3 linked regions of the Homo sapiens genome follow. The protein of the gene in region 1 interacts with the protein of each later gene in a biochemical or structural test. Each region holds a gene or a part of one and is shown in the gene's direction. Other genes may lie near its edges.

Evidence for each region.
Region 2: the proteins of CDC25B (region 1) and MELK form a complex in vitro, tested with the Homo sapiens proteins (one study listed by BioGRID).
Region 3: the proteins of CDC25B (region 1) and YWHAB form a complex in vitro, tested with the Homo sapiens proteins (2 studies listed by BioGRID).

Annotation. Positions count from the first base shown.
Region 1 is NC_000020.11:3,791,715-3,799,309, forward strand, and holds the start of CDC25B (M-phase inducer phosphatase 2), read left to right. Parts: upstream 1-4,595; 5' UTR 4,596-4,817; coding exon 4,818-5,017; intron 5,018-5,907; coding exon 5,908-6,035; intron 6,036-6,697; coding exon 6,698-6,749; intron 6,750-7,595. UniProt on the Homo sapiens protein: Tyrosine protein phosphatase which functions as a dosage-dependent inducer of mitotic progression. Directly dephosphorylates CDK1 and stimulates its kinase activity.
Region 2 is NC_000009.12:36,575,884-36,582,908, forward strand, and holds part of MELK (maternal embryonic leucine zipper kinase), read left to right. Parts: intron 1-4,189; exon of another isoform or gene 4,190-4,988; intron 4,989-5,760; 5' UTR 5,761-5,798; coding exon 5,799-5,856; intron 5,857-7,025. UniProt on the Homo sapiens protein: Serine/threonine-protein kinase involved in various processes such as cell cycle regulation, self-renewal of stem cells, apoptosis and splicing regulation. Has a broad substrate specificity; phosphorylates BCL2L14, CDC25B, MAP3K5/ASK1 and ZNF622.
Region 3 is NC_000020.11:44,895,694-44,902,718, forward strand, and holds part of YWHAB (14-3-3 protein beta/alpha), read left to right. Parts: intron 1-5,837; 5' UTR 5,838-5,840; coding exon 5,841-6,140; intron 6,141-7,025. UniProt on the Homo sapiens protein: Adapter protein implicated in the regulation of a large spectrum of both general and specialized signaling pathways. Binds to a large number of partners, usually by recognition of a phosphoserine or phosphothreonine motif.

The DNA of each region.
Region 1 (7,595 bases):
TCCCATCAGTTCCTCCCTAGGAATTCATCTTGTAGATAGCACACAGACACATAAGGGCATACTTACTGCATCGTTGTAAAAGCTAATATCCTAAATGTTCAGCATTAGGGGCTTGAGTAAATATATATTGTTATGGTACTAATATGGATCCATCTCCAAGTAAGAAGAAGAAAGGTATAGAACAGTGGTTTTTATTTTTATTTATTTATTTATTTTTGAGACAGAATCTCACTTTGTCACCCAGGCTGGAGTGCAGTGGCACGATCTTGGCTCACTGCAACCTCCGCCTCCTGGATTCAGGTGATTCTCCTGCCTCAGACTCCCAAGTAGCTGGGATTACAGGCACATGCCACCATGCCTGGCTAATTTTTGTATTTTTAGTAGAGACAGGGTTTCACCATGTTGCCCAGGCTGATCTTGAACTCCTGACTTCAGGTGATCCACCTACCTTGGCCTCCCAAAGTACTGGGATTACAGGTGTGAGCCAGCATGCCAGCCTAGAACAATGTTCATATGCTGTTTGTATATTCTTTAAAATACAGACGGATTTACGCTTGTAAAGATATAGACCTGCAGCCACTAACCCTAAGTGGCCATTGAACTATTAATTTATTTATTTTATGTTTAGAATCAAAGTCTCACTCTGTTGCCCAGGCTGGAGTGCAGTGGTGGAATTATGGCTCACTGCAGACTCAAACTCCTGGGCTCAAGCTATCCTCCTACCTCAGCCTCCAGAGTCACTTGGATTTTTTGTTTGTTTGTCTGTTTTTGAGACGGAGTCTTGCTCTTTTCGCCCAGGCTGGAGTGCAATGGCATGATCTAGGCTCACTGCAACCTCCGCCTCCCAGGTTCAAGCGATTCTCCTGCCTCAGCCTCCCGAGTAGCTGGGATTTCAGGTCGGTGCCACCAGGCCAAACTAATGTATGTATTTTTAGTAGAGACAGGTTTTCACCATGTCGGCCAGGCTGGTCTCAAACTCCTGACCTTGTGATCCACCTGCCTCGGCCTCCCAAAGTGCTGGGATTACAGGTGTGAGCCACCGTGCCCAGCGAGTCACTTGGATTATAGGCAGGGGCCACCACACCGGGCTAAGTTTTTAAAAAATGTTTTGTAGAGACAAGGTTTCACCATATTGCCCAGGCTGGTCTTGAATTACTAGCCTCAGGCAATTGTCCTGCAGCAGGCTCTGGAGTTGCTGGGATTATAGGTGTGAGCCACAGTGCCAGCACTATTGAGCCCTTTAAATGTTGCAAGTACAAATTGAGATGTGCTGGGGGTGTAAAATGCATACTAGTTTGAAGACTTGATATCCAAAAATGTAAAATATCTCATTAATTTATATTGATAACATGTCGAATAATATTTTGAATACATTACATTGAATAAAATATTACAGTAATTTCATGTTTCTTTTTTACTGTTTTAAATGTGGCTACTAGAATATTTTAAATTATGTATGTGGGCCAGGCGCAGTGGCTCACGCCTGTAATCCTAGCACTTTGGGAGGCCGAGGTGGGTGGATCACCTGAGGTCAGGAGTTCGAGACCAGCCTGGCCAATATGGCAAAACCCTGTCTCTACTGAAAATACAAAATTGGCCAGGAATGGTGGCGGGCACCTGTAATCCCAGGTACTCGAGAGGCTGAGGCAGGAAAATCGCTTGAACCCAGGAGGCAGAGGTTGCAGTGAGCCGAGATCATGCCACTGCACTCCAGCCTGGGCGACAGGGCGAGACTCCATCTCAAACAAACAAACAAAAAAACCCAGAACCCCTCTGTGGTCTTGCCCACCTCCCCCCTCACTGGCCCAGAGGTGACCTGACTGTGGGATTTCTGTTTTTTTTTTTTTGGTTTTAGAGAATTTTATTTTATTTTATTTTATTTTTTTATTTTATTATTATTATACTTTAAGTTTTAGGGTACATGTGCACAATGTGCAGGTTAGTTACATATGTATACATGTGCCATGCTGGTGTGCTACACCCATTAACTCGTCATTTAGCATTAGGTATATCTCCTAATGCTATCCCTCCCCCCTCCCCCCACCCCACAACAGTCCCCAGAGTGTGATGTTCCCCTTCCTGTGTCCATGTGTTCTCATTGTTCAATTCCCACCTATGAGTAGAATATGCGGTGTTTGGTTTTTTGTTCTTGCGATAGTTTACTGAGAATGATTATTTCCAATTTCATCCATGTCCCTACAAAGGACATGAACTCATCATTTTTTATGGCTGCATAGTATTCCATGGTGTATATGTGCCACATTTTCTTAATCCAGTCTATCATTGTTGGACATTTGGGTTGGTTCCAAGTCTTTGCTATTGTGAATAGTGCCGCAATAAACATACATGTGCATGTGTCTTTATAGCAGCATGATTTATAATCCTTTGGGTATATACCCAGTAATGGGATGGCTGGGTCAAATGGTATTTCTAGTTCTAGATCCCTGAGGAATCGCCACACTGACTTCCACAAGGGTTGAACTAGTTTACAGTCCCACCAGCGGTGTAAAAGTGTTCCTATTTCTCCACATCCTCTCCAGCACCTGTTGTTTCCTGACTTTTTAATGATTGCCATTCTAACTGGTGTGAGATGGTATCTCATTGTGGTTTTGATTTGCATTTCTCTGATGGCCAGTGATGATGAGCATTTTTTCATGTGTTTTTTGACTGTGGGATTTCAAGGGATTCAATAGTATAATGCCTGCCCTGCCACATACACCCTGTGCAGATGTATATTGGCTGGGTGGGGGGTGGGGGGGATACCTGTTGTGTTTATTTTGAAAATGCAAATCTCGGGGCAGTTTTTTTTTTCTGGTTTTTGGGCTGGGTGGCTTTACAAGGACACTTCCCCCTTCCCTCCTGGCACTAAGGGCAGTCACATCCTCACTGGAAGTAGTGGCTGGAGGTCCAGGGCATAACCCCTGACCCAGGGAGGATGAACCGGAAATTCAGTCTTGCAGAGCCCTCTGCACAGCACAGGAGCTGGGCAAAATTTGGAGAAAAGGAAAGGTCACGTTCCCACCTTGGCCACCCCTCTCAGGTGGGGCTGGGGTCTTCCCCTACCCTTCAGATGCATTGGCCCACCCAGCCCCCCATCACCAGGCCCTCCCTTTTGCCACCCCCATCCAATGCACCTTGGGTCTGGGTGGCTGGGACTGCACGAGAAGGGGTACTCCTGCCTTGCTGAGCTGCAGCCCGCCCCCCGCACCACCACCCGCCCAGCCAGAGGCCACTTCTAACCTGGGGAGACAGGATGCGAAAGCTGCTCACTACCCACCGGCTTTTGGGTGCAGCCTTCAGGCCTCTTGTTCCAGGAGGCCTGGAAAACGAGCGGGGCTGGAAGGCATTTAGATAATTGGAAGATGGGCCGGGCACAGTGGCTCGTGCGTGTAATCCCAGCACTTTGGGAGGCCTAGGTGGGTGGATCACGAGGTCAGGAGTTCGAGACCAGCCTGGCCAATATGGTGAAACCCCCGTCTCTACTAAAAATACAAACATTAGCTGGGCGTGGTGGCGCGCTCCTGTAGTCTCAGCTACTCGGGAGGCTGAGGCAGAAGAATCGCTGGAACCCGGGTGGCGGAGGTTGTAGTGAGCAGAGATGGCCACTGCACTCCAGCCGGGTTGACAGAGGGAGACTCCATCCCAAAAAAAACAAAACAAAACAAAAAGAAAGATAATTGGAAGCTGCTCCGCTTAAAACGAATGACAAATTCAGCCTCCCTGGTCTGGTCATCAAAGAAACACCAATTAAATAATATGGTGCCATTGGCACCAAGTTAGCCAAATCATCAATGGGCGTGATACTTAATTCGCCTCTCTGGTTGCTGACACCCTCCTCGACCCCCAGCCGCGGAAATCCATTCCTAGTTCCACCGTTTAGAGCCTCTCCTGGGGCTGCCGCGAAAATTGGGCCGGTTGGGGTAACATCTAACCTGGGGTCCCGCGAAAGAGCCCATCAGTTCCGCTTGGGGGCCCCACTGCCCTCCCACCTCCTACGCTGGGCGCTTCTCCTGCGAATGACGTTTTGCTGCTGCTCAGCGCAGCCAGTCGCGGAGGCGGGGAGGCTGCGCGGTCAGAGGCGCCTGGAGCGAGCGAATCCTGGCCCACCGCCTGCCCAACCGCGTGACCTTGATTGAGTTAATGAACTTCACGCCTCAGCGTCCAGGTCTGTAAAATGGGGTGTCTAACGCAGACCGTACAGCCCAGCTGGGTTTAGCAAACTTCCGGGAGCCAGTTGGAGCCTCTCCCCATCCCTAGCGGTGATCCCAGGTGACGACATGCCGCGGGGGGTCCTGCGGAGGCCACCCTAGGGCGTTGCTGCTGCCTTTGGGAGTGTGGAGCTCCAAACCATGTCGCGAGAGGCGGATTTTGGGAGGCCGGGATCCTCGCGCCAGGGGGATGTGCGAGGGTGTGGGATAAATCTTAATTCCTCCGGCCCACCCAAAGCCTGGAAATCCAGCCTCCGCGCCTCTTGCCCTGCGGGCCCCGCCCTCAGTCCCGCCCTCATCTAACCCGCTACCCCATTGGTGGCGTCCGGCGGCGCGGCTGCTGTTATTTTTCGAATATATAAGGAGGTGGAAGTGGCAGCTGCAACTAGAGGCTTCCCTGGCTGGTGCCTGAGCCCGGCGTCCCTCGCCCCCCGCCCTCCCCGCATCCCTCTCCTCCCTCGCGCCTGGCCCTGTGGCTCTTCCTCCCTCCCTCCTTCCCCCCCCCCCCACCCCTCGCCCGCTGCCTCCCTCGGCCCAGCCAGCTGTGCCGGCGTTTGTTGGCTGCCCTGCGCCCGGCCCTCCAGCCAGCCTTCTGCCGGCCCCGCCGCGATGGAGGTGCCCCAGCCGGAGCCCGCGCCAGGCTCGGCTCTCAGTCCAGCAGGCGTGTGCGGTGGCGCCCAGCGTCCGGGCCACCTCCCGGGCCTCCTGCTGGGATCTCATGGCCTCCTGGGGTCCCCGGTGCGGGCGGCCGCTTCCTCGCCGGTCACCACCCTCACCCAGACCATGCACGACCTCGCCGGGCTCGGCAGGTAGGACACCCCAAGGAGGCTGCATATGGGGGTGAGAGGCTAGGTCTGGAGTCCTGGGCCTCCTGGAGAACTGGGCATGGTAGTCGAATCCAGGAGGTGGAGTCCGGGGAGGCATCCTGAGCAGTGGAGAGGTACGCCCTTGTTCCCTCCTAGGGGCCCAGGACATGGGAAGTGAGACCTGGGCTGTGCCCCCCACACCTCCAGGTGACCTGCTCTCAGTCTGCACAAGCCTCTCCAAATCTTCTTTCCCCTCACTCCCTCCTCCCTCATTGTGCCTCCACCACGCTGCCTCCGTAATCTCTGCCCGGATAGCCACCATTTTGCCCCAGGATGGGAATCTCAAGCCTGGAGAGGGAACTTAAGGGTGGCAGAGCCGTGGAGCACTCACACATCCATGCCCCTGCTCCCTCCACCCCAGTTCTGCCCCCAGAATTAAGACAATTAATTAAACACTGATCCTGCTCCCTAAGTCTGCAAGGGGAGAGCTGGGTTGTTCCAGTAGGAGAACCTGGTCTTGGTCCATCCTTCAGGAAGGGTCCTGGAAAGGTGGGGGTCTGACAGTTTAGGGGAAGGCTCTCTGGGGCGGCTCTGCTAGACCACCAACCCTTAGGCTGGCCTCCAGCCAGGCAGCCTTGCTCACACCCTGGGCTCACCTTGCCCTGCTCCTGAGAGGACCTTTCCTAAACCAGTCAACGAAGAGAAGACGCTTTAGGGCCTCTGTAGAATGAACCTTCCTTGACCTGAGAAGAGGGGGCCCTCAGGGCCATTGCTTTCCCGGTGTAGTGTTTCGCTCAGTTCTTTTCTCAGCAAGGGAGTGGGAACGTGGGCTAGCCAGGCCTTGAGCCCCACGTTTACCTTTCTCCTTTCCCGGGTCCCTGTTCCCTTCCCAGCGAAACCCCAAAGAGTCAGGTAGGGACCCTGCTCTTCCGCAGCCGCAGCCGCCTGACGCACCTATCCCTGTCTCGACGGGCATCCGAATCCTCCCTGTCGTCTGAATCCTCCGAATCTTCTGATGCAGGTGAGGCCCAGGGGAGCCTGGGGAGATCTGCCTGTGTCAGGAGAGTTTGTGGGGGCTGCCTGGGCCTCCCAATTTCCCTGCCGATCAAACTAACATCCTCCCCACAACCTGGTGGGCCCAGGAGCCTCTCCCCCACCCTCCACAGAAATGGGAGGAAGACACACCTCTTGTGGGGCTCACCACACCCAACGCGGACTGGCTGAGTGGATGAGAGGGTGGGGCCCTCTACGGAGATGAGATCTTACCTATGTAAAACCACGCTCCAGAGTTCCTAAACCACAACCCTACCTGGGAAGCACCCAGGGCTGAGAGTTGGTCTTTAAAACATTCTTAGCCTATAACCTCTTCTTTAAAAATCTGTTGTCTCTTCTAGAACAAATTATTTTAAACCAGTTCAAGAAAAATGCTTAGTGAGCATTGTGGTTTAAAGACGCATATGAAGGAATTTCCATAGTAAACAGGGAGTGGAGCCCTGTACCGTCTGGGGGACGATGTGTCAGCTCTCAGGGTCCATGGTTGGGTTTTTGTTTCATTTTCTAATGTGTCAAAGTCCAAACTAGAAACTGTTTTTTTTTTTTTTTTTTTTTTCATATTGGGACATGGTGGGGGAAAGAATACAGAAAGTGCCACTACTTTCAAACCAAGGTGCTCTGTCCCCTCAGGTCTCTGCATGGATTCCCCCAGCCCTATGGACCCCCACATGGCGGAGCAGACGTGAGTAGAGAAGGGAATGTGTACTTCCAAGCATTCAGCACCTGTCTTTAAGAATCCTAGTTCTACCATAAATTCACCCGGGAGGCCTGGGAAAGCAGACAGACCATGGGGTGGCTTCAGGATCCCCATGGCCGGGGGGCTCACTGACTTTCTCAGGCCTTGGCATTCTGCTCCCTGTCTCAGAGAAGGATCTGCTCTCATGGGAGCCAACCGAGTGTGGGCTCAGGGCCAGGGATAGTGGGGACAGTGGCCACTGGGAGAGCAGATACTAGACTACAGCCCATGTCTTGCAGGAATACAAGCCCAGCGTATGTCCCGTTTTTCTTTCTTGCCTATACCCATTTTTTTCTGTGAAATATTACAATTTAAAAATATGATCCAACTAATTCAAAACTTTAACTCACTCTAGGCCAAACAAAACACAGTTGCCTGCAGATTGATTTGGCTCTTGGCCGATCAGCAACCTCTGACTTCGATGACACTTTACCCTCTGGCCAGCCCTGGTCTAGGCCCTTTCTGCAAGGGAATGGAGAGAGAGTTGGTGGGCTCTGGCCTGGACAGACCATCCCCTTGGCTGTGGGCATGGGTGGTGTCTTCCAGAGCACAGCTGTTCCCATCCAGTTGTTAAAGCCCAAGCAGCGGGGCAGCTGCCAGCCATTAGTAGGGACAGCTGGGCATCTCTGGCCTGTGCTGGGGACTGTGGCTTTGGGTTTAGGATAGTGACTTGTCTTACCTCCCATTGCCTTTGATCAGACTGGGTTGGGCTGCAGATTGGTTCACAAACAGGAAATGGGGAGAGGATTGGGTGGGGTTGGGGGACTGCAGGTTGGTTTTGGTGGCAGCACA
Region 2 (7,025 bases), on another chromosome or scaffold:
ATTTCCATTCTCCTGCTCTCTTTTTTCTTCTGTATCAGGATTCCAAAGATTTCTGAGCCTTAGGTTGACCTCTATACTTTTACTGTTTTTATTGCCTTTTGGAATTTCTTAGTCCTATGGTTCCTGTTTGTTTTTAGGATGAGGTTCCAGTTTATCCCCACATTTGCCCCACTGACAAATGCCCTTTAAAATATTTCTGAATTAGTGTTGCTGTTTAAAGTATTTAATCCTGTGCCTTCAGGTGCCCAGTGAGAATAAATTTGTCCTCTGTGATATCTCCTTGCCTTGAGTAACTTTTTCTACTCCAGTGGAAGCAGAATGTTTCATTTTCTATCAACAGTTTTCCCTCAGTACTGGGACCTGACCTTGCTTCTTCTAATGTTTGCCTACTGTGTTCATGCAGATTTCGTTAGGTTAAATGTTCAACCTACTTATTAAGTTGGGTCCAGTGTGATCTCTTCCTAGGAAATGGCTTAATATTGTTTATTTTATCAGAATGTCGTTTTGCATGTTATCTTTTTGTGTGCTATTTCTGCTTTGATGTTGAAGACTGAACCTTGTTTTTTAAAGCTGATTTAATTTTTTTCTTGAGTGTCGATATTTTTCCTTCTAAAGCTTCTGCTCTAGTTTTCTATTCATTGACCAAATTTTTTTTGTTTGTTTTTGAGCTGGAGTCTCACTCCTGTCGTGCAGGCCAGAGTGCAGTGGCGTGATCGCGGGTCACTGCAACCTCCACCTCCTGGGTTCAAGCGATTCTCCTTCCTCAGCCTCCCTAGCAGCTGGGATTACAGGTGTGCATCACCACGCCCGGCTAATTTTTGTATTTTTAGTAGAGACGGGGTTTCTGCATGTTGGTCAGGCTGGTCTCGAACTCCTGACCTCAGGTGATCCACCTGCCTTGGCCTACCAAAGTGCTAGGATTACAGGCGGGAGCCATTGTGCCCAGCCGTTTTTTACTTGCTGATAATAATTTTCTTTTTCTCTCCAAGTAAAATGATTCATGGAATCAGTGTTTCAGGCATAGAAAAATGATATTTTTAAAATGTCCTTTGTGGCTTTTGGGGTTTTGATAAGTTCATTCAGAATTTTTTCCACCTCAATTTTAAGAAGACTACTCATCATTGTATGAAGGGCCTTCTCTTATTAAGCTCTGTCTTCCTTTATAAGCTCACCACACTTCTGAGGTTGAACTCACACTCTAGGTCTTCCAAATTCATGGCCATTATTAAGGCTTAGTAACATGCTAGTCACTCAGTTCTGGATAAGGGCAGGGTGAAGAACAGAGAATTTGAAGGTAGTTTACGTGGCACCTGCCACTCATCAGTTTGAGGCTTAAACAGGCTTGCTTGGCCAGGGCGATGGCTCACGCCTGTAATCCCAGCACTTTGGGAGGCCAAGGAGGGTGGATCACCTGAGGTCAGGAGTCTGAGACCAGCCTGGCCAACATGGCGAAACCCCATCCCTACTAAAAATACAAAAATTAGCCGGGTATGGTGTTGTTGTTCGCCTGTAGTCCCAGCTACTTGGGAGGCTGAGGCAGGAAAATAGCTTGAACCTGGGAGGCGCAGGTTGCAGTGAGCTGAGATCGCACTACTGCACTGCAGCCTGGGCACCAGAGCAAGACTCCATCTCAAACAAACAAACAAACTAGCCAGGAGTGGTGGCATGTGACTCCTGGCCTCAAGTGATCCACCCACCTCAGCCTGCCAAAGTGCTGGGATTACAGGCGTGAGCCACTGCACCTGGCCTCGACTAGATTTTAATTTTTAATTTTTATTTATTTTTTTGAGACACAGCTTCGCTTGTTACCCAGGCTGGAGTGCAGTGGCATGATCTCGGCTCACCGCAACCTCTGCTTCCCGGGTTCAAGTGATTCTCCTGCCTCAGCCTCCCTAGTAGCTGGGATTACAGGCATGGGCCACCACGCCTGGCTAATTTTTTATATTTTTAGTAGAGACGGGGTTTCTCCATGTTGGTCAGGCTGGTCTTGAACTCCCGACCTCAGGTGATCCGCCTGCCTCAGCCTCCCAAAGTGCCGGGATTACAAGTGTGAGCCACTGCGCCTGGCTGTTTTTTATTTTTAGTAGAGACAAGGTCTTGCTATATTGTCCTGGCTTGTCTTGAACTCCAGGCCTCAAGCAATCCTCCTGCCTTGACCTCCCAAATTGCTGGGATTACAGACATGAGCCACCATGCCCAGCTATCTTTACGCTTCTTCCTTTTGCCACTCCTAGCTGTAGGTTTGGTATGGGGAAGACCTTAGCTATCTATGTTTTCAACATTTCAAATATTTGTCTTTTGCTTTTAAGTCTTTACAACTGTTACTGATTTTGTATGGTGTGAGATAGAGATCCAATGTGTTTTTTTTTTTCCTTCACCTCATGGCTAATCAATTGTCCCAGCTCCAGAGCTGCATTTCCATCACCTGTTACCTCTAAAAGCAGCCTCAGTTCAGTACCTGTCAACTTTTACTTCCTCTAGGATCTTTGCACCTAAATTCCCTCTTTCTGGAATATTCTCCGTCTATTTCTTTGTGGGCTATGACTGTTAAGGCCTACAGACCAAAGACCACATCTGTAGTAAAAATCATTAGATGTATTTAGTTTGCTGCGCAAGAGAAACCATACTCTTGAGAATTTTGGGTAGTCTCAGAGTGAGTTGAAAGGGGCAGAATGAGGGAAGAATGAGGTGGGCCTGAGGATGTCATTGAAGACAATGAAGTCAGTCAAATAAAGGATCTTTATTTTAACAGCCTTGTATGGAAACATTGTTTATATGGTTATGTTCAGATTCTATTGAAACCATTGTTCAAGTTTTGATAGGAATATCACAGTCTGATTACTGGCAGGGCTGATTTTCTCAATTCTCATCCTTTGAATTAGAGCTTGGCTTAAATGTTACCTTCTCAGAAACCACTGTTGCTTATTTTTATTTCAGTATTTAGTATAGATAATAATAATAGTAATTATTATTTTTTGAGACAGAATCTTGCTTTGTCTCCCAGGCTGGAGTGCAGTGGCACGATCTTGGCTCACTGCAACCTCTGCCTCCTGGGTTCAAGCAATTCTCCTGCCTCAGCCTCCCGAGTAGCTGGGATTGCAGGCGCACACCACAAGGCCTGGCTAATTTATTTATATATTTATTTATTTATTTATTTTTGTGAGATGGAATTTCGCTCTTGTTGCCCAGGCTGGAGTGCAGTGGCACGATCTCGGCTCACTGCAACCTCCGTCTCCTGGGTTCAAGCAGTTCTCCTGCCTCAGCCTCCCGAGTAGCTGGGATTAGAGGCATGTGGCACCACACCTGGCTAATTTTGTATTTTTAGTAGAGACGGGGTTTCACCATGTTGGTCAGGCTGGTCTCGAACTCCCGACCTCAGGTGATCTGCCCGTCTTGGCCTCCCAAAGTGCTGGGATTACAGGCATGAGCCACCGCGCCCAGCCTAATTTTTATATTTTTTAGTAGAGACCGGGTTTTACTATGTTGGCCAGGCTGGTCCCGAACTCCTGACCTCGTGATCCGCCCACCCTGGCCTCCCAAAGTGCTGGGATTATAGGCGTGAGCCTCTGCACCCGGCCTATAAATTATAAGTATTAATTTGTTGTCTACTTATTTGCCTTTTGTCTTCTCCACTAGAATATACACTCCATGAGGGCAGAATCATATTTCTTCTCCATTATAGCCCTAGTGCCAAGGGCAGGTTTGGCATATCATAGGTGCTCAGTAAATATCTGTATGAATAAATGAATAAGAGCAAATTCAAGAGTTTTCTAGAACTGCATTAGCAGTTTTTCCAGACACACTGCTGATCTCTAAAAGTCAACCACGAGGTTATTTTCCACAAGTAAGATGGAGATGGTATGAGTGTGACTTTGTATATTAATGTGCATAACAGGGCCCTACTTAGCTCTATGGTTTTTAAAAAATAAACTACTTAATTTTAAAACTCAGGGAGACAAAATCAATAAGATCTACCTAATTTTTTTTACAACTAATTTTTATTTATTATTTGATGTATAATTAACAGTATATGTAACCCACATAAGTTGTGAAGCATAATAATAAAATACATATCATATACATAATAAAATTGTGTATGACTGGGGTCTTAGTTTGGGTTTTCCTGATGACTACTGATAATTTTTTCATGTCTTCTTTTTTTTTTTTTTTTTTTTTTATTTTGAGACAGAATCTCGCTCCGTTGCCCAGGCTGGAGTGCAGTGGCGTGATCTCGGCTCACTGCAACCTCTGCCTCCTGCCTCAGCCTCCCAAGTAGGTGGAACTACAGGCGCGTGCCACCACCCCTGGCTAATTTTTTATAGCTTTAGCAGAGACAGGGTTTTATGATGTTAGCCACAATGGTCTCCATTTCCTGACCTTGTGATCCACCCGCCTCGGCCTCCCAAAGTGTGGGGGTTACAGGCGTGAGCCACCGCACCCGGCCTTTTTTTTTGAGACGGAGTTTCACTCTTGTTGCCCGGGCTGGAGTGCAATGGCACAATCTCAGCTTACTGCAACCTCCGCCTCCCAGGTTCAAGTGATTCTCCTGTCTCACCCTCCCAAGTAGCTGGGATTACAGGCTCCTGCCACCATGCCTGGCTAATTTGTGTATTTTTAGTAGAGACGGGTTTCGTCATGTTGGTCAGGCTGGTCTCGAACCCTGACCTCAGGTGATCTACCCTCCTCAGCCTCCCAAAGTGCTGGGATTACAGGTGTGAGCCACCTTGCCCAGCTTCGTGTCTTTTTTTTTTAAATTATTTTTTCTTCAGGTAGCCTCCCGAGCCAGAGTAGGCTCAGAGACACCCTTTTCCATGTTTTTGTTGGCCATTTGTGTTTCTTTGAGAAATTTTTTTTTTTTTTTTTGAGACAAAGTCTGGCTGTTTCGCCCAGGCTAGAGTGCAATGGCACGATGTCGGCTCACTGCAACCTCCACCTCCCGGGTTCAAGCGATTCTCCTGCATCAGCCTCCCAAGTAGCTGGGATTACAGGTGAATGCCACCCCGCTTGGCTAATGTTTTGTATCTTTAGTAGAGATGGGGTTTCACCATGTTGGCCAGGCTGGTCTCGAACTCATGATCTCGTGATCTGCCTGCCTTGGCCTCCCAAAGTGCTGGGATTACAGGCGTAAGCCACCATGCCCGGCTGAGAAAAGTTTTTTGTATCATTTGCTTATTTTGCTGTTGAGTTTTTCTTATTGTTTTGTCAGAGTTTATGTGTTTCCTGTGTACATCCACTATTATATTTGTTGCAAGTATCTTCTCACATTTATGGTTTTCTTTTTTTGATGGTGTCTTTGGTTGTATAGAAGTGCTTAGTTTTATTTTTATTTTTTTTATAGATGTGGTCTTGCTATGTTGCCCAGGCTGGCCTCGAACTCCTGGGCTCAAGCTGTCCTCCCAAGTGGCTGACAACACACGCACCACTGTGCCCAGCTGAAGTTCTTAATTTTAATGTTGTTTAATATATTAATTTTTTTCATTATTATTATTAGTACTTTATTTAAGTGATCCTCTCCTATCCTGAAATAATGACAATATTCTTTAAAAAGTTTTAAAGGTTTATGTTTCATACTTTTTAAGTCTATCTGGAATTCATTTTTATGTATGGTGTGAGATAAGAATCCTTTTTTTCATATGGCCAATAATCAGTTTTTTCAGTATCATGTAAATGCATAAGACTTATTTAGATTTGCAGTTACAAGAATGGAGGAGATGATCCGGTATTATTTCCTTTATTGATTATGTACTCTCTGTCTTCTAGGTTCTTTTTCTAATTCCAAATAAACTTGCAAGAGGACTATGAAAGATTATGATGAACTTCTCAAATATTATGAATTACATGAAACTATTGGGACAGGTAATTGTTATTTTTTTTTGGAGGCAGTGGATAGATCAACTATTTGAGAGTATAGATTATTTGGGTAGGTGTGAGCTTTTTCGTCTAACCCACACAGTTTTAAAATTCTTCTACCTACTTCAGTAAGAAAAAGTGGAGCAAGCAGAGAGGAGAATAGTAGGAGAAGCCCTGTAGGTTATTGCAAGGACTTTGACTTTTATTCTAAATAATTTATTCTAAATATTTCTTTTATTTCTTTTTTTTTTTGAGACGGAGTCTCACTCTGTCGCCCAGGCTGGATGGAGTGCAGTGGCGCGATCTTGGCTCACTGCAAGCTCTGCCTCCCGGGTTCACGCCATTCTCCTGCCTCAGCCTCCCAAGTAGCTGGGACTACAGGCGCTCGCCATGCCTGGCTAATTTTTTGTATTTTTAGTAGAGACGGGGTTTCACCGTGTTAATCAGGATGGTCTCGATCTCCTGACCTCGTGATCCACCCGCCTCGGCCTCCCAAAGTGCTGGGATTACAGGCATGAGCCACCGCGCCCAGGCTTCTTTTATTTCTTGACTTTTATTCTAAATTAAAGTCATTGGAGAGTTTTGAGTTAAGGGGTAATTTGACCTTTGTTTTTACAGAGTTGCTGTGGCTGCTTGGTAGATAAAAGGTTGGATGAAGGAGGGCAAGAGCAGAGGCAGGGAGATGTTAGCAGACTATTGCGATAATTCAGGTGTTGATGCTAGAGATGATGGTGGTGTGGATGAGGGTGATGTAAAAGCAGTGAAAGGGGTGGGACATTTTACACACACATATGTACACACCTATGTGTGTATGTTTTTATTAAGGTATAACATATAGTAAAATATGCAAAGTGCAATAATCTCAGTGGAGTTTTACACATATATATGTATACACATACCCATATATTCCCTGTGCGGATCAAGACATAGACCGTTTCCAGGGAGTATCTGCCTGCTTTCCCCCAAGGTAGCCATTGATATATTTTGAGGACAGAGCTAATGGGATTTATTGATGGGTTGGAGTGCTAGAGAAAGAGAAGGGCTAAGGATGGTTCCAGGGTTTTTGGCCTGAGCACCAGGGAAAATGGAGTTGCCCTTTGTTGAAAGGAAGAAGACCATGGGAGAGACTACTAGGAAGTTCTTTTTGGAAATGTTAATTTGGGGATTTCTTTTAG
Region 3 (7,025 bases), about 41 Mb from region 1:
CTGGTCTCAAGCGATGCTCCAGCTTTGGCCTCCAAAAGCACTGGGATTATAGATTGATCTGCCATGCCTGACTGGAAGAGTGAATTACTCTTTGAATTTCAGAGGGCACAGAAATTCAAGAAACTAGGTACAAATGTAATGAAGATTTAATATGCTTGTGAGGCTAATAGGTGCTTTGAATTATTTGAGAAAAGGGAGAACTCTACCAACTCTGCAGTTTTATGCTTACATTTCAGGATCAGTTTGTTCATTCAGCAGATATTTGTTCCTACCAATTATGTACAGGATGCTGTGGGAGATATGTCCAAAGGAGCTTATGGTGTAGGAAGGGAAATAGGAGACACTATGTAAGTAATTTTAGTACTGAAGAAACGTGGTAAGACATTGACAGGTATCAGCGAAATGCTTTGTGAGAATATATTCATTAGAGCAATGCCGTCCCATAGGAATAGAATATAAGCCACATGTAATTTAAATTTTTCTGGTAGCTGCATTTAAAAATTTTTTTAAAGTGAAATTGATTCTATCTGTTTTTACTTAACCCATTATGAACAAAATATGATTTCAATATGTGGCACTAGCCACATTTTAAGTGAATAGCCACATGTAGCTATGGCTATGGCTTAAACAGCTTAAGAAAGGCTTCATGGAAGGGATGGTATCTGAGCCACACTGTGAAGAATCTTGTATGCAGAGTAAATTTGGGAAAAGCCATTCCAGGTAGAGGGAGTGGCTTGGTGAGCAAAGATAGAAAAGCATACTTTGTATGTAAGAAAACCATTTTGGCAGAAGCACATATGATGTGGAAGGCATGATGTGGGGGTCTGGAAGATAGGTTGGCAAGCTTTCACTGATAGGGGAGGAAATCTGACTCTGCTTTTGGCATCAGGGAACTTTAAAGAATTTTGAGCGGGAAGTGACTTGAGCAGAGTTATAGGAAAATGGGTCTTACAGCAAAGGCATGGAGGGGGCTGTAGATAATGAGTGACTGAAAGCATTGCCACTAGGGCAAGATTTTGGATGGGAGATTTATTGTAGATGTAGAAATAGGAACAATTTCATTTCTCCTTTGCTGCCTTCCTCCAAACTGCTGGGTGTTGTGTAACCCATTTCCTGTTGAAATTGGTCTAGTTGCTTCAAAATCCATGTTATATAAGTCAAAAGTTATGTAAGCAGTAGCCATCAGGACCTTTAGCTATGGATTTTGTTTGTTGTAAGTTGTTTCTGTATGTGTATAATTAAAAATATTTGAAACAGATAAATGGATACAGATTTTAAAAAGGTGTGCATTCAGTCCTTATCTTGCCATGATGGTTCTCAATCTCTAAGAAATCTTGCAGTAATCTCGGAGAAGCTTAAAATAGCTGACCCCAAACAGAAAGGGTGCATTTTATTTTGGGAAATAGGGAAGGCATATTTGGGAGGTCCCACTGAATAGTCCAGATTCTTTGGAGTAGTATGATTTAACTTTTAATCCTTGAGAAGGAGAGAAGTAAAAGGGGGATAGCTTAATTTTGGGGCCTAGTAGAGCTGAAGAGGTTGATGGCATTATTTAGCAACGGCAATCCTTTATTACTCCATTATGATACCACATGGGATGGCTTAGCTCTGAATTGGCTTTTGGCCAGTACTTTATGATTTGGAGTAATCCACAGGTAGAGTTGCATAGGTACTGTTCTATGAACTTTGAAGTGGGCCTCTAAGTGACTTCTAACTTTGAGTTAGTCTACAGACTGGAAATTTTCTGAAGGTTGTTGGGTCATTGAAAGTTGGCTTCTTTCTGGTGTACCTGGCACTTTTAGAAACCATGAAGTAGGGTTATTTAATGATGAAGATATTTATTGTCCTGATCTCAAAGACCTTATGGTCAAGAAAGTTAGATATATGAAGACAGTGGTCATCCTTTGGTATCCAGGGGGTGTAGGTTCCAGGACACCTGGGGATACCAAAATCTGAAGATACTTGTTTATTTTGTGTTTTTTTCCTTCTTTATTTTCCACCACGGTTGGTTGAATCTGTGTATCTGGAACCTGCAGATATGGAGGGCCAACTATATATACTTTTAAGATGGTAGAGTATTTTTGATGTACTTGTATTAGAGTAGAACAGGTTGTCTTGTGGTAACCAACAGCTCCAGCATCTCAATGTTTTAACCCAGCAAAAGTTTCTTTTGTTTTCACCCTGCGTGTCCAATGCAGGTCTGCAGGAGTCTTGCACTATACAGTCACCCGGGGACTCAGGCTGACAAAAACTCTACAGTTGCATGACTGTACCACCTAGAATACATGGCCTTCTCAGTGGCTGCTGTGAGGGAAAAGAGCCTGGGGAGGCACACGTAGGATATTCACAGTGTTAGCCTGGAAGTAGCGTCATTTCTACTTATCTTTCATTGGACAGAACTACCATGTGGCCTCTTCTGACTGCTGTGGGGGTTCTGGGAAATAGAAGGGAACAAATGGAATGTTTCTTGAGGATTACTCTCTCTGCCTTAGTTTTATTCTAGTGTTGTGAGTGAAGATGTCAGATGGATCAAAGTGAGACTTGCCTCACTGAGTGTAAGCTTACAATTAGTGAGCCTTATATAAGACACAGCTCTGCATGTGATTTAGATAATAAGCAGTAGGAAGAAAAATTATAGTTATGAACTGGAGAATCAATTCTTTCTGAATCACCTAGATTTTGAGTGTATCTTATTGTGCTCCCTAAAACATTTTTAGGTGATAAGGCCCTGTGTGTAGAATTTCTCTCTTGAAAATACAGAAATGACTTTTGAGGCAAAATCATTTTGTGAGTGGAGGTCATACTTTCTTGTTTTTTTTTTCCTTTTTTTTTTGAGATGGAATCTTGCTCTGTTGCCCAGGCCAGAGTGCAGTGGCGCGATCTCTGCTCACTGCAACCTCCGTCTTCCGGGTTCAAGCGATTCTCTTGCTCAGCCTCCCCAGTAGCTGGGACTATAGGCACGTGCACTGTGCCCAGCTAATTTTTTGTTTTTTTAGTAGAGACGGGGTTTCACCGTGTTAGCCAGGATGGTCTCGATCTCCTGACCTCGTGATTCACCTGCCTCGGCCTCCCAAAGTGCTGGGATTACAGGCATGAGCCACTGCGCCCAGCAGAAAATGGTTAATTTAAAAATAGCAAAGAGGCCAAGTGCGGTGGCTCACACCTGTAATTCCAGCACTTTGGGAGGCCGAGGCAGGCAGATCACCTGAGGTCAGGCGTTCAAGACCAGCCTGAGCAATGTAGTGAAACCCCACCTCTACTAAAAATACAAAATCAGCCGAGTGTGGTGGTGCATGCCAGCAGTCCCAGCTACTCGGGTGGCTGAGGAGAATCGCTTGAACCCAGGAGGCAGAGGTTGCAGTGAGCCGAGGTTGCGTCACTGAACTCCAGCCTGGGTGACAGAATGAGACTCCGTCTCCAAACAAATAATCATTTTCAGAGCCTTAAATTGTGATACCATGTATGTAGTAATGAAAGAATTTGTTTTGAAAATACTGGCATTGGCTAGGTGCAGTGGGTCACGCCTGTAAGTCCCAGCACTTTGGGAGGCCAAGGCGGGCAGATCACCTGAGTTTAGGAGTTCAAGACCAGCCTGGCCAAAAATGGCAAAATCCCATCTCTACTAAAAATACAAAAGTTAGCTGTGCATGGTGGCACGTGCCTGTAATCCCAGCTACCTGGGAGGCTAAGGCAGGAGAATCACTTGAACCCTGGAGGTGGAGGTTGCAGTGAACCGAGATCCCACCACTGTACTTCAGCCTGGGTGACAGAGTGAGACTCTGTCTCAAACAAACAGACAAAGCACACAAAAAAACCTGACATTACTACTACTGTTTAAAGTAGCATTTCATGTTTTTATAGCTCAGGATATTAGTGTATTTTTATACTGTGTGGCACAGATTGATATATCAATATTTAAACCAACAGTACATAAAATTAACTCTTCTTGTTTAGTAAATAACTTTTCAATTATTTTATCCAAAAATTACTTATTAAAATTACCGCACTCTGTAAATGGTGATTATTGCAGTGGGGAACTGACTGTGGTGAGTTGATAAGAGATATTCACTGATTGGCATATGGATTTGATAAATTGATAAACTGAAGTCACTAGGATTTTTGTCTATTTCAGAAAAACTTTAAATGAACTCAGTTATGGTTCAGATGAATTCAGTTATGGTTTCAAGTTATGTTGCTGTACATCTTGTTATACACCCCTTTCTCTTGCAACCTATACCATATACAAAATTAGTGCCTGATATTTTTATATAATGCTTTATACTTTTTAAGGTGCCTTCACATGTATCAGGTCTTTTGTTCCTCATAACAGGCCCACTAAAAGAGTTGGTAGTGTTCTTTCTTTTTTTTTTTAGAGACAGGGGTCTCAGTTGGTTGCCCAGGCTGGAATGTAATGGCACAGTCACGGCTCACTGCATCCTGGAACTCTGGGCTCAAGTGATCCTCCCACCTCAGCCTCCTGAGTAGCTGGGACTACAGGTGCACACCACCACACCCAGCCAATTTTTTCTTCTTTTGTAGAGATGAAGTCTTACTATGTTAGAGACTGATTTGCCAGGATAATCTTGAACTCTTGGGATCCTAGGCGTGAGTCACCACATCCAGCCCTGGGTAGTGTTCTTATTGCCCAGTAGAGACCGAAGCTCTCAGGTTAAGTGATTTAACCAAGGTCATGCCACTTGTAAGTAAGTAGCAGAGCTAGTGCTAGATAGAGCCCAAGTCTGACTGCCCTTAGTTTATGTTCTTCCTGTGCAGTGTGTCCTAGTAACAAAGTTAGCAGATTACAGAAGATGTGATATAATCTTTCCCATCCTTCAGTTATCTACTGCTTGATGGGTGCAGCCAAATAGATCATTTAAAATCATATCTTTTGCTTCAGGATTGGTTGAAACAAACATCATACTTACTCTTTCCTGTACTATGGAAAAAACAGGTTTAGTCAAAACCAGAGTTGCTTACAGGACAGTGAAGAGAGGACTTCCTGTATTACAGGATACAGTTGGATTAAGGTCATTAAAACAAACCAGACAATTACTGAGAGAAGTCAAGGACATATATATAGTAAGCATAAACTTTTTTTTTGAGATGGAGTCTCACTCTGTTGCCCACGCTGGAGTCCAGTGGCGTGATCTCGGCCCACTGCAACCTCTGCCTTTTGGTTTCAAGCGATCCTCCTGCCTCAGCCTCCCCAGTAGCTGGGATTACAAATGCCTGCCACCACGCCTGGCTAATTTTTGTATTTTTAGTAGAGATGGGGTTTCACTGTGTTGGTCAGGCTGGTCTCGAACTCCTGACCTCGTGAATTGCCCTCCTCGGCCTCCCAGAGTGCTGGGATTACAGGTGTGAGCCACTGCACCCGGCTAGTAAGCATAAACTTCTAAAGAAATAGTTATTAAGCAGTCTGTATGTGCCAGGCAGGTGAATTAGGCTAATGGAAGAAAACAAAAGCTCTAGAGCCAGATAGATGTGAGCTGGAGTTCTGGCTCTCCACCATCTATTTGCATGTTGCTCTGGGCATATCACTTGCCTTCCCTGACCCTCCATTTCTTCACCCATAAGAAGGGGAAAGTTGTTGTTATGAACATACCTACTCTGGGACTGTTGGGAAGATTACTGGACCAAAATAATATAAAGGCCTTAGCAAAGTACTTAACCCTAGAGGTGTTTGATATATCATCAATATTGTTGATGGCATTTGGAATGAGATGTTTCACATTTAGTATGCTGCTTTCCAGATGGGTTGGAAGAAGATTCACACACGTTTCCTAGGCCCCGAAACCTGACATTTGCTCTTTCTTTTTCTCTTGCTCTTGTTCTAGGGAATGACAATGGATAAAAGTGAGCTGGTACAGAAAGCCAAACTCGCTGAGCAGGCTGAGCGATATGATGATATGGCTGCAGCCATGAAGGCAGTCACAGAACAGGGGCATGAACTCTCCAACGAAGAGAGAAATCTGCTCTCTGTTGCCTACAAGAATGTGGTAGGCGCCCGCCGCTCTTCCTGGCGTGTCATCTCCAGCATTGAGCAGAAAACAGAGAGGAATGAGAAGAAGCAGCAGATGGGCAAAGAGTACCGTGAGAAGATAGAGGCAGAACTGCAGGACATCTGCAATGATGTTCTGGTAAGAGGCCAGTGCTTCTGTTTTGAACAGTGGTTTCTAAATAGTATTAATTTAATGTATAAATGCAGACTCTCAAAACAGCTTATGAGAGAGAGGTGTCTGAATATACTGGAAAGCTGCCAGGTATTTACAACTAATTTTTAAGCATATGATATAATTTGTGTCACCTATTGCCTGATCAGAGGTTGTACATCACTTCTGAGATACTTTCCTCTCCTATCAAAAAGACCTGTGAAAAACAGTGACATTTTTTCAGCCTCCCTCCATCTTTTAAAATTGAGGCCAGATAGACAGGATTTTAATAGATACAGCTACAGATAGGCTATTGTGTATATTAGTCAGAGTAGTGATGTCATCGCCAGTAGGGGAGGGAGATGAAAAAGCTGAGCTGCCTTTCAGCCTCTCCCCAGTCATGCCTTCACACTGTAAAGTCCTGCTTTGGTCTGAAAGTTAGGCACATCCATCAAGTTCGGCATGCATTCCAGAGCCAAATTCAAAGTGTTTTGGGCATTCTCCTCTCCTGTATTTTACATAAACCCTTAGTCAGATGATTGATTCCCTCTGGCCGCCACTTGGGATTGAATGGGAGGGGTACGTACTCCAAAACAAATCATAATCATATTGTCTTTCCCGCACATCCTGAGCCATTGGGAACTTTCTTTTTCTTCCAGGTGAAATCAGGTAAAAATGAACTCAGCGAGGGCTGCTTTGAAGGGAAAAGGAATTCACACTTGGGGACCTACCACCTTCCCTGCTGGCTGCCTTTCTAAATTACTGCCCATGACTCCTTTCTTTTGAAAACCAGTATAAAGCTTGTCAGCCATCAGGCAGCACCCCTTATCCCTAACCTATTAGGAGTTACACACTGTCTGTCTACAAAGAATA